Regions from separate parts of the Homo sapiens genome. Here region 2 is linked to region 1. The links come from fine-mapping of genetic effects on plasma protein levels. A gene starts in region 1. The other region holds a variant in brackets. All regions are shown on one strand. Distances are from middle to middle. Region 1 holds the start of CD27 (CD27 molecule). Region 2 has its middle 16 kb from the start of CD27.

Region 1 (5,370 bases):
TCCTGGGCTCAAGGGATCCGCCTGCCTTGGCCTCCTAAAGTGCTGGGATTACAAGTGTGAGCCACTGCTCTGGCTTTTTGTGTGTGTGTGTGTGTGTGTGTGAAAAAGGGTTTTGCTCTGTTACCCAGGCTGGAGTGCAGTGATGTGAGCAGCCTGGACCTCTTGGGGACCTCTTGGGCTCAAGTGATCTTCCCATCTCAGCCTCCCAAGTAGCTGGGACTGCAGGTGCACTACCATGACCAGCCAATTTTTTTAGAGACAAGGTCTCACTATGTTGCCCAGCTGGTCTCAAGCTCCTGGGCTCAAGTCTCTACAAAATATGCAAATACCCTTCTGCCTTGGCCTCCCAAGTGCTGGGATTATAGGCATGAGCCACCACATCTGGTGTTGGTTTTTGTTTTTGTTTTTACGGGACCAGGCACTACAGCTCACACCTGTAATCCTGGCACTTTCAGAGGCTGAGACTAGAAGATTGCTTGAGCCCAGGAGTTCAAGGCTGTGGGGAGCTATGATTGCACCACTGCACTCCAGCCTGGGTGACAGAGCTAGACCTTGTCTCTAAACTAAACAAAACAAAACCCAGTACCAAGAGACCCAGTGACACCAAACACGTTTTGCAAGTAGGTAGTTTAATAGTTACAGTTACCTGGTTCTAAAAAGTGTCTTGCTAGAGAACATTTGTTCAAAGGGGCCACTTTAAAGCCTGCTATTCTAGTGTATACTGGCCGTAGTTTCTGAAATTGTAGCGAAGATGGAGAAATAATAACAGCATTCATAAGCACAACTGCAGATATTATACTTCTTAGTTTAAAAAAAACCTTTTTTTTTGGAACTATAAAATAAAAACACAGGCTACATACATACTCATTTTCTCAAATTGGCTTTTGTGCAAAAAAAGGTTGTTACCTATTGGGTTGCTTTGTTATTTCCTTAGAAAGATGTATTCCAAATTCCCAATGGCCAACCTGCACATGTGCACTCTGGGAACACAGTCAGTTTATTGGTTGGGGGTTGCTTGCCCGAAATCTGGGGTCATAGAGCCACTTCTCTCATTTTATTGTCTTGATCCTATCCATAGACCCGTTCTCACCAATCCCTCAAATTCTATTTATCCCTTTCCTGGAATACTAGATGTCTGCCCACGTTAATTCATGCCCCACCTAGGGTGCCGCATTTCCCAGCATTGGCTCCACTTGCTGTGAGCCTTGAAGAAGGCCAAAGCTTTGGCCCCGTCATCCTCCTTGCACCCCCAAACCCGTCACCAGCCTTGCTCCCCCAGATGCTTGTCCATCGTCCCCACCTACACACCCTTGCCCACCTCACCAGAGTTACAGTGCCGACAGCTCTCACAGTGGGGCCGGGTGTGGTGGTCAGGAGAGAAGGAGACCCCCGGTATGCAAGGATCACACTGAGCAGCCTTTCTATGCTGGTCACAGTCCTTCACGAGGAATGTTCCTGGGAGGAGAGGGTAAGGGATCAAGGCCTGAGAAGGGCTGGTTCTCTGCCCTCTTCAAGGTGGTGCCTCCCCACAGCTGCAGGATTTCCCTCCTTGCTTGAGCTCAGTCTCACCCTGCGCCTATTTACTGTATTAACCCCAGTCCTCTCTCTTTCGCCACTCACCTGGCCCTTACCAAGGCCCCCTCTTACCTGGCTCACACATCTGGCAGCACAGCTTTCCCTGAGCCCAGTAGTGCCTCTCTGGGCAGCTCTTGGGGGCTGGAGTAGCTGAGAGCCCCACCAGGGTCCCCAGAACGCACAGCCACCAGGGATGTGGCCGTGCCATGGTCCCTGCCCAGGCGGCTCCTTTCTGTGCCCAGTTGCTGATGCTGGCCTCTGGAGTTAGCACCTCCAAGCTGGGCGCTGCTGTCTCTTCTTTGCACCCCCTGGGCAGTGGCTGCTTCAGGTGGCAAGCCAACCTTTGAAGGCAGAATCTCTATTGTGGCTGTTTTTTTTTTCTCTCTCATAGCAGCAACCTCCACCCCCTTCCCCTTCCGTGTGCTGGGGAGAGTATTAAAGAGCAAACTCTGTGAGACCTGCTGCTCTTCAAACATGCTTCCTCCAACACATGAGCCTTCCTTAGTTTCCGCCTCTCCTGCTCATGAAGCACGTAGCCCACTGACTCCTGCTTCTTTGACAAAAAGGTGATGGACACACAGTTGCTCACCCCTCCTATTCATGCACTTGTGCACAAAGGTGCCCACGTTACCCCCCCCCACCCACCCCCCCGTCCACAGTTTACAGACGAATTCGCAGGACTCCTGTCTCCCATACCTGCATCCCTCCTTTCACAGACAACAGTTGAAAGAAGGAAGGAGAACCAGAATTGAGCACAGGTCCACAAGCTCTTATCTGAAACTTTGGGGGTCAGATAAGTTTTGGAATTCAGAATTTTTCAGGTTTATACAGAAACCAGCACCACAAAACACCCTTGGGGAGTTGGGGTAGTCTCATAATCAAACGCAACATTTCTGCAGCAAAACTATTGAATATTTACACCAACTGGGAGGAAGCTTAAATAGCCTTGTCTCAATTGAGGTCTGGTTTGATGGCCAAACGAGTTTGCTACAGAATGCTCAGAATTGCAAGCAAGGGGTGTAGAGCTGCCTCTCTTCTGTCACACTCTGACCGATCACCTATGCTCTCCTTTAATCCTCATGTCAGTCTCTGATGTGGGTGCCACCTACTGCCCACATGGCCTTCCCTCTCAGACCCTTGCTCACTCCTCACTTTTGTGCCATCTTTATCCTCCCCTTTCCCACCTCTGGCTGTGTCAGTCACTGGTGTCCTGGATCGCCTGGAGCATCTTCTCTCCTAGCCTTGGGCACTTGGGATTAAAGGTAGCTTCCTACGGGGGTCATCTCTTTTTTATTTTCCCAGTTCTCCCAGCAAGACTGATTTCGGGATATTGGAAACAGCTAGACTTTTCCCTCTTTGAGTCATGGGGACACACACGGGTCAACAGCCTCCTCCACTCTTTCCTCAGCAACCGATATGTGGAGTGGCTTATTTCCCCAGGAAGTTTTTAATTTAGGGGCTTTGCCGTTGTTTCCACACTGTTCATAAATGTCACACTGCTGTGGTCACACCTGTCAGATCTGTTCTCTATCTCACTCTGTAGTTTCCTTTCTCCTCATTTTCTCCATTCTCTTGTCTTTTCCCAGCCCCCTCTGCAGCTCTTCATGGGGGTCCACTCAAGTCAGAAGCCACATTTGGGTGTGATTCAGAGAGCTGTTTATGCAAAACCAGCTTTGTCACCATCAGGCAAGGCACCTGAATTCCCACCGCAGAGAGTGTTGTGGCCGTGAGGACTTTTCTGTCACCAGCCATTTCCAGGTTGTGGTAAATGTGTTCACTGCAGGCATGGGGCAGTGGGGTGGCTAGCTGACTGCAGGCCCTGGGAGGGTGGATGAGACCCTCAGAAGAATCATGAGGAACTGGGGACCTTTAGGAAGAAACTTGTCGAACAGGGACTTGCAGTTCGCTGAGCCTAGCAACCTTGAACCGACTGGGAACTGCTCACTAGCCTAACGCTGCTGTCCTCTGGGCCAAAGCCCATCTCCTCTTTTCTACATATCACTTCTCCAGGGGGTCAGAGCAGGAGCAGGGTCTGCCTGGCTTTCCTGGAGGGCCTCGGCCAAGAGGAGGAAGGCCAGGTTTCTGGACGTTTTTCTTTCCTAGGCAAATAGAATGAGCTCATCTCCAGCACTCTTTGCATCCACTTCTGGTGAGCCTTCCCCATCCTAGGCTGGCTCCCTGGACGGGACCTTCCTTTTTTTTTTTTTTCCTCCCTCCATTTCACTCTGTCACCCAGGCTAGAGTGCAATGATGCAATCTCAGCTCACTGCAACCTCTGTCTCCCAGGCTCAAGCCATTCTCACGCCTCAGCCTCCTGAGTAACTGGGATGACAGGTGCGTGCCACCACGCTCAGCTAATTTTTGTATTTTTAGTAGAGATGGAGTTTTGCCACGTTGGTCAGGCTGGCCTCAAGTTGATCCGCCCACCTTGGCTGGGATTACAGGGGAGAGCCACCGCGCCCAGCTTATTTTTTGTATTTTTAGTAGAGATGGGGTTTTGTCATGTTGGCCAGGCTGGACCAGAACACCTAGCCTCAGGTGATCTGCCTGCCTCGGCCTCCCAAAGTGCTGGGATTACAGGCACGAGCCACCATGCCTGGCTGGGCCCTTCCTTTTGTCTAGAGGCCCTGGGATGCAGCCCGCTGACATCTTCCTTGAAATCTCACACAACCACTTTCTCTTTTGGGGTCAGCCTCTCCCCCATGCCTGGCTGGGGCATAAAAACATATGGTATTTTCTCAACAGCTCCCTGCTTTTCTTTCCTTTCCAGAAACAGGCCCACAGCAGCCCTTCTTGAGAACTCTGAGGACTCTCATGACTTTTTTTGGTTCTTTTTTTTTTTTTTTTTTTTGAGAAAGGGTCTCTCACTGTTGCCCAGGCTGGAGTGCAGTGGCATGATCTCAGCTCACTGCAACCTTTGCCTCCCAGGTTCAAGCGATTCTTATACATCAGCCTCCCAAGTAGCTGGGATTATAGGCACCGGCCACCATACCCGGCTAATTTTTTGTATTTTTAGTAGAGACGGGGTTTCACTATGTTGGCCAGGCTGGTCTCAAACTCCTGGCCTCAAGTGATCTGCCCTCCTCGGCCTCCCAAAGTGTTGGGATTACAAGCGTGAGCCACTGTGCCTGGCCTCTCATGACTTTTGAGAGGGCCTGACCAACCCTCCACCTGGCCCAGTGACTGTAGCCTAGATGTCAGCCAGGGGCACCCTGCTCCTTAAAATCTAGATAAGATGCTCTTTGCTTCCCACTCAGGGCAAGTCCTGGGCAGGCTGTCCACCTGCATGAGTTCCAGTAGGTTGGGTGTTCTTGTGGCTGCCTCTGGCTCTGATTTCTCTTTCAGCTAAAGTCTTGTTCTTGCCTCCGTGTCTCCTGTCTGTTCCCTTACCTGTACCCTGCCTCAGGCCCAAATTGTTGGACACAAGACTTGCTTAAAGTTTCCTCTAAACCAGCTCTAAACAGAAGGCTGTTAGGTGTGGCAGACTTTGTCTTTTTTCTCCAATTTTTATGAATCAATAACCTGTTAAAGCGCTCAGCAGGACCAGTCTCTGCAAGACCTTTCCTTAGGAGGAAGTTCTGTTATGGGACAAAGATGTCCGCAATCACTGTTCCTGACTTAGGCTTCCTGAGTCTCATCACCTGAAGCTCTGAGTTTGTCTGGCCCTCTTTGTCCCCTGCTCCCCATTGCTTCCTCCCCGACTCCCACTTTCTTCGATGACCACCACCAGCACTGCTGCCCCCACCACCTTAAAGCCTCCTTCCCAGCAAGGCTTTGAGAGGCCACCTGGTCAGG
Region 2 (5,372 bases), 15 kb after region 1:
ACCACGCCCGGCCAGCCTGTTTTAAAAAATTATTTTATTTTCTACTTAAAATGTTATTAAGCAATAATCAAATATTTCTTACTCTGATTTCTTGGCCCCACTCCTCCTGAGGATTCTCTGCTTGAATTTTTCAGAGCAAGGGCGACCCCTGTCTTAGGAGAGGTAGGAGAGTGCCTCATGGACAGCATCTGGTTGTTCCTTCTCCCTGGCAAGGGGCCTGCCTCTCTTTTTCATACCTGAGATGACCGACAGCAGTAACATCTGACTTTGTCTTTTCCTTTCTTATTTGGGGCATCGCAGGCTACCTATATTTGCTGAAGGAAATCTTACACAAAGCTGCGATAATTCTAGCACAGAGCAAGAAATAGAGCCTAAGGAACAAACCACCCATTTTCTCTCCACTCGGTAAAAAATTATCTCTGGGAAATGAAATAGCCCAAGTCTGGCAGTTCCATGTTCTTCTTCTTTTTGTGTTTTAGAGACAGCCTTGCTTACTCACCCAGGCTGGAGTGCAGTGGCACAATCATGGCTCACTGTAGCCTCGAATTCCTGGGCTCAAGAGATCTTTCTACCTCAGCCTCCAGAGTATCTAGGACCAGAGGTGCACACTACCACGCCTGACTGATTTTTAATTTTATGTAGAGACTGGGTCTCTTTATGTTTCTCAGGCTGGTCTCAAATTCCTGGCCTCAAGAAATCCTTCCACCCCAGCCTCTCAAAGTGCTGAGATTACAGGCATGAACCACTGCCCCTGGTCCATGTTCTTCTTATATTGCTTTTCTAAAGTACTTCTTTTTGCAGATAGAGAAAGGCTTGTTAACTGGCCTCATGACTCAGCCTGCCAGGCACAATTGTCCATCGGCCCCAGCACAGTTGTATTTTTGTGTTTGTTTTGTTCTTTCCATAAATGATATACAGTATGTATCCTACGATTTGCTTTTCGTGCTTTTAATCCAGTTATATGTCTTGGAGATCATTTCATTTTATACTTCTAGAACTACTCGTTTCGTTAAATAGAGAATGGATGTGCAGAGGCTTTTTAGCCATTCTCCTGGTTCCCGAATACTTAGGTTGTTCCCAACAATGCACTATCGTAAGTGGTGTTGCATAAACATCTCATACTTCGCTGTGCATGTGGGAGTGTCTCTCTAGAATAAGTGCGGGGCATCGGAATCGCTGAGTCACAGGGTGTGCACATTTTTCACTTTAACAGATGCTGGCGAGTTGCCCTCCAGAGTGGCCCTACCAATTCACACTCCCACCAGCAGTGGAATGATAGCACATATTTCCTCACGTCCTGCCAGGCTTTCGTATTAGCAAACTGTTTTTGAGCATCTCATTGGAGGAAAGTGCTGTCTCATTGTTTCAGTGTGCACTCTTCCCATTCCCGGGGAGGCTGAGCGTCTTTCCATGATCGCGCTGTTTGTGTTTCCTCTTTTGTGACCAAGGCCTTTTTACCCTTATGTCACCACCAGTGTTCTGAAGTCCACCCTTGGCTCTCCCCCACAGCAATCTTGTCCTCCAGACCCAACCTGCATTGCCTCTGCCAATCACAGGGGTGCCAAACATGGTATACACTTGCCATCTGCCCTGGGGGCTGAAAAAAGCCTCGTGGTGACAGGGGAGATCTCTGCTGTCCCTCCCTTACTAATGTCAGGGGACTTCAGACCTCCACAGAGGGTGTGTCCTTTACCTCACTTGTCACACGGCAGCTGGGACTTGCGTGACCCCTAAACTCCTTCTGCTTCAGCATTTGATGACCCCCCAAACTGCACTGACCTCCAGCCCAAACTGAAGGGATCCCTGGTGCCTGTTGACTTTTACTGAGATGAAATGAATCATTTTAATAATTTAAAAATGTACAATTCAGTGGCTAGACTTTTACTGAGATAAAATGAATCATTTTCATCATTTAAAAATGTGCAATTCAGTGCTTTTACTATATTCACAAAGATGTGCAAATATCACAGATACATTTCTATTTTTGAAAAAGTTATAACTACCCTAGTTGGTGTGAAGTGGTATCTTATTGTGGTTTTGATTTGTATTTCACTAAGACTAATGATGTTGAGAATCTTCTTATGTGCTCATCGCCATTTGTATATTTTCTTTGGAGAAATGTCTGTTCAAGTCCTTTGCCCGTGTTTAAATTAAATTATTTGTGTCTTTTGTTGCTGAGTTGCAAGAGTTTTTTTTTTTTTCTTTTTGATATTATGAATTCTAGACCTTACTAGATAAGTGATTTGAAAATATTTTCTCTGGCCCGGGGCGGGGGCTCACACCTGTAATTCCAGCACTTTGGGAGGCCGAGGCGGGCAGATCACGAGGTCAGGAGATCGAGACCATCCTGGCTAACACAGTGAAACCCCGTCTCTACTAAAAATTAAAAAAAAAAAAAAAAAAAATTTAGCCAGGCGTTGTGGCGGGCGCCTGTAGTCCCAGCTACTCGGGAGGCTGAGGCAGGAGCATGGTGTGGAACCCGGGAGGCAGAGTTTGCAGTGAGCCGAGATCGCACAACTGAACTCCAGCCTGGGCGATAGAGCGAGACTCCGTCTCAGAAAAAAAAAAAAAAAAATTTATCCCATACTGTGGGTTGTCTTTTTACCTTCTTAATAGTGCCCTTTGATGCATAAAAATTTCACATTTTGGGCCGGGCATGGTGGCTCATGCCTGTAATCCCAGCACTTTGGGAGGCCAAGGCGGGCGGATCACGAAGTCAGGAGATGGAGACCAGCCTGGCCAATATGCTGAAACCCCGTCTCTTAAAAATACAAAAAATTAGCCGGGCGTGGTGG[C/T]GGGCGCCTGTAGTCCCAGCTACTCGGGAGGCTGAGGCAGGAGAATGGCGTGAACCCAGGAGGCGGAGCTTGCAGTGAGCAGAGATCACGCCACTGCACTCCAGCCTGGGAGACAGAGCGAGACTCCGTCTCAAAAAAAAAAAAAAAAGTTTCACATTTTGATGAAGTCCAGTTTATCTACTGTTTCTTTTGTTGCCTGTGCTTTTGGCATCATATTTGAGAAACTGTTGCCGAATCCAAACTCATACAGATTTTCACTTATATTTCCCTCTAAGAGTTTTATAGTTTTAACTCTTAAATTTAGTTCTTTGATTTATTTTGAGTTAAATTTTTTATCTGGTTTTAGGTAGGGGTCCAACTTCATTCTTTTACTTGTGGATATGCAGTTGTCCTAGCACTGCTTCTTGAAAAGACTATTCTTTTCACACAGAATGGTCTTGGCACCCTTGCTGAAATTAATTGACAATAGATGTATGGGTTGATTTCTGGACTCTAAATTGTATTCCATTGATCTGTATGTCTGTCTTTAGGTCAATACCATGGTTTTGATTACTGTAGCTTTATAGTAAGTTTCGAAATTGGGACTTCAACTTCGTTCTTCTTTTTCAAAATTATTTTGGCTACTCTGTGTCCCTTGCATTTGCATGTGAATTTTAAGATCAGCTTGTCCATTTATGCAAAAAAGAAGGCAGTTAGAATTTCGATGGGGATTGCATAGAGTCTGTAGATGAAATTGGGAAATATTGTTACCTTCAGTCCATGAACACAGATGTCTTTCCATTTATTTAGGATTTCTTTAATGTCTTTCAACAATGTTTTCTAGTTTTCAGTGTATGAGTCTTGCACTTTCTTTGTTAAATGTATACCAAGTTTTTTTTTTTTTTTCTCGAGACAGAGTCTCACTCTGTTGTCCAGGCTGGAGTGCAGCGGCCCAATCTCAGCTCACTGCAGCCTCTGCTTCCCAGGTTCAAGCGATTCTGCAGCCTCAGCCTCCCGAGTAGCTGGGATTATAGGTGCCTGCCACCACGCCTGGCTAATTTTTTGTATTTTTAGTAGAGACAGGGTTTTATCATGTCGGCCAGTCTGGTCTCGAACTCTTGACCTCAGGTGATCCGCCTGCCTTGGCCTCCCAAAATGTGGGAATTACAGATGTGAGCCACCGCACCTGGCCAATGTATGCCTAAGTATTTATTCTTTTTGATGCTATTGTAAATTGAGTTGTTTTTCCTAATTTCATTTTTTTTTTTTTTTGAGATGGAGTTTCGCTCTTGTTGCCCAGGCTGGAGTGCAATGGCGCAGTCTCGGCTCATTGCAATCTCCACCTCCTGGGTTCAAGTGATTCTCCTGCCTCAGCCTCCTGAATAGCTGGGATTACAGGCATGCGCCACACATGCCCAGCTAATTTTGTGTTTTTAGTAGAGACTGGGTTTTACCATCATGGTTAGGCTGGTCTCAAACTCCTGACCTCAGGTGATCCCGCCTGCCTCGGCCTCCCAAAGTGCTAGGATTACAAGCATGAGCCACTGTGCCCGGCCCCTAATTTCAATTTCATTTTCTTTCTTTCTTTTTTTCTTCTTCTTTTTTTTTTTTTAGACAGTGTCTCGCTCTGTCACCCAGACTGAGTGGGGAGTGCAGTGGTGCAACCTCGGCTCACTGCAGCCTGCACTTCCCGGGTTCAAGTGATCCTCCCACTTCAGCCTCCCGAGTAGCTGGGACTACAGGTGCATGCCATCATGCCTGTCTACTTTTTGTATTTTTTTGAAGACATGTGGTTTTGCCATGTTGCCCAGGCTGGTCTGGAACTCCTGGGCTCAAGTGATCCACCCGCCTTGGACTCTCAAAATGATTACAGGTGTGAGCCACTGCGCCCAGCCCCGAATTTCATTTTCAAGTTGCTCTTTGCCCATGTAGCAGTTGACATTTGAAGAAGGCAGTTGTTTTCTCCAGAGTTGGAAGGTGGCACCTTGAGGTGTAGGCGTGTTGCTATGACACCCTGTGGGCCGTTGCTGGGGCTCTCTTGTGACTTTTCTGAAGTCACGGATGGAGAGTTTGACTCTGTGACACAAAGGGAAACATGTCTGACTAATCTTTCCCACACTCCCTTTGCCTCTGATGGCTCCCTCGGCTAGGAGAGGAGAGGAAGAGAGTGGGTTGGTGGGGCCTCACCCTTTATTACAGGTGCTTCCTCTGACCCTTCTCTTCTGCAGGATTTTTGGGGCAGCTACTGAAGGGACAGGCACTCCCAAAGGGCAAGGGCTGTGGCAGCCTTCTCTTTTACCCATAAGTTGGCCAGAATTGATGCTGTCTACTTGTTTTTTTTGTTTGTTTGTTTTGTTTTGTTTTTTGGGAGATGGAGCCTCCCTCTGTCACCCAGGCTGGAGTTCTCTCACCCAGGCTGGAGTGCAGTGGCGCGATCTTGGCTCACTGCAACTTCTGCCTCAGCCTTGGGTTCGGGTTCAAACAATTCTCATGCCTCAGCCTCCCAAGTAGCTGGGACCCCAGGCACACACCATCATCCCTGCTTAATTGTTTTGTATTTTTAGTAGAGATGGGGTTTCGCCGTGTTGGCCAGGCTGG

Evidence for each region. PIP is the posterior inclusion probability: the model's chance that the variant is causal. Protein levels are from antibody-based Olink assays in UK Biobank. Linkage for the fine-mapping came from a reference panel and not from the study's own genotypes, which makes the PIPs less certain.
Region 2: its variant is fine-mapped to the plasma level of the CD27 protein (UK Biobank, PIP 0.95).

Annotation. Positions count from the first base shown.
Region 1 is chr12:6,441,509-6,446,878 of GRCh38, reverse strand. It overlaps CD27 (CD27 molecule), which reads right to left and starts at 1,924. Exons shown (of 6, transcript NM_001242.5): 1 at 1,648-1,924; 2 at 1,324-1,455. The coding sequence starts at 1,783. CD27-AS1 (CD27 antisense RNA 1) reads left to right here. Exons shown (of 6, transcript NR_015382.2): 5 at 3,162-3,333. RefSeq lists enhancers at 644-763, 1,473-1,652, 1,683-1,742, 1,287-1,788, 2,693-2,742 and 1 more and silencers at 3,823-3,902, 4,003-4,142.
Region 2 is chr12:6,426,555-6,431,926 of GRCh38, reverse strand. No RefSeq gene overlaps it. Among named protein-coding and RNA genes, the nearest start is that of CD27, 16 kb to the left of the region's middle. RefSeq lists enhancers at 4,710-4,949, 4,990-5,099. The variant C/T (reference allele first, on the strand shown) is at 2,796.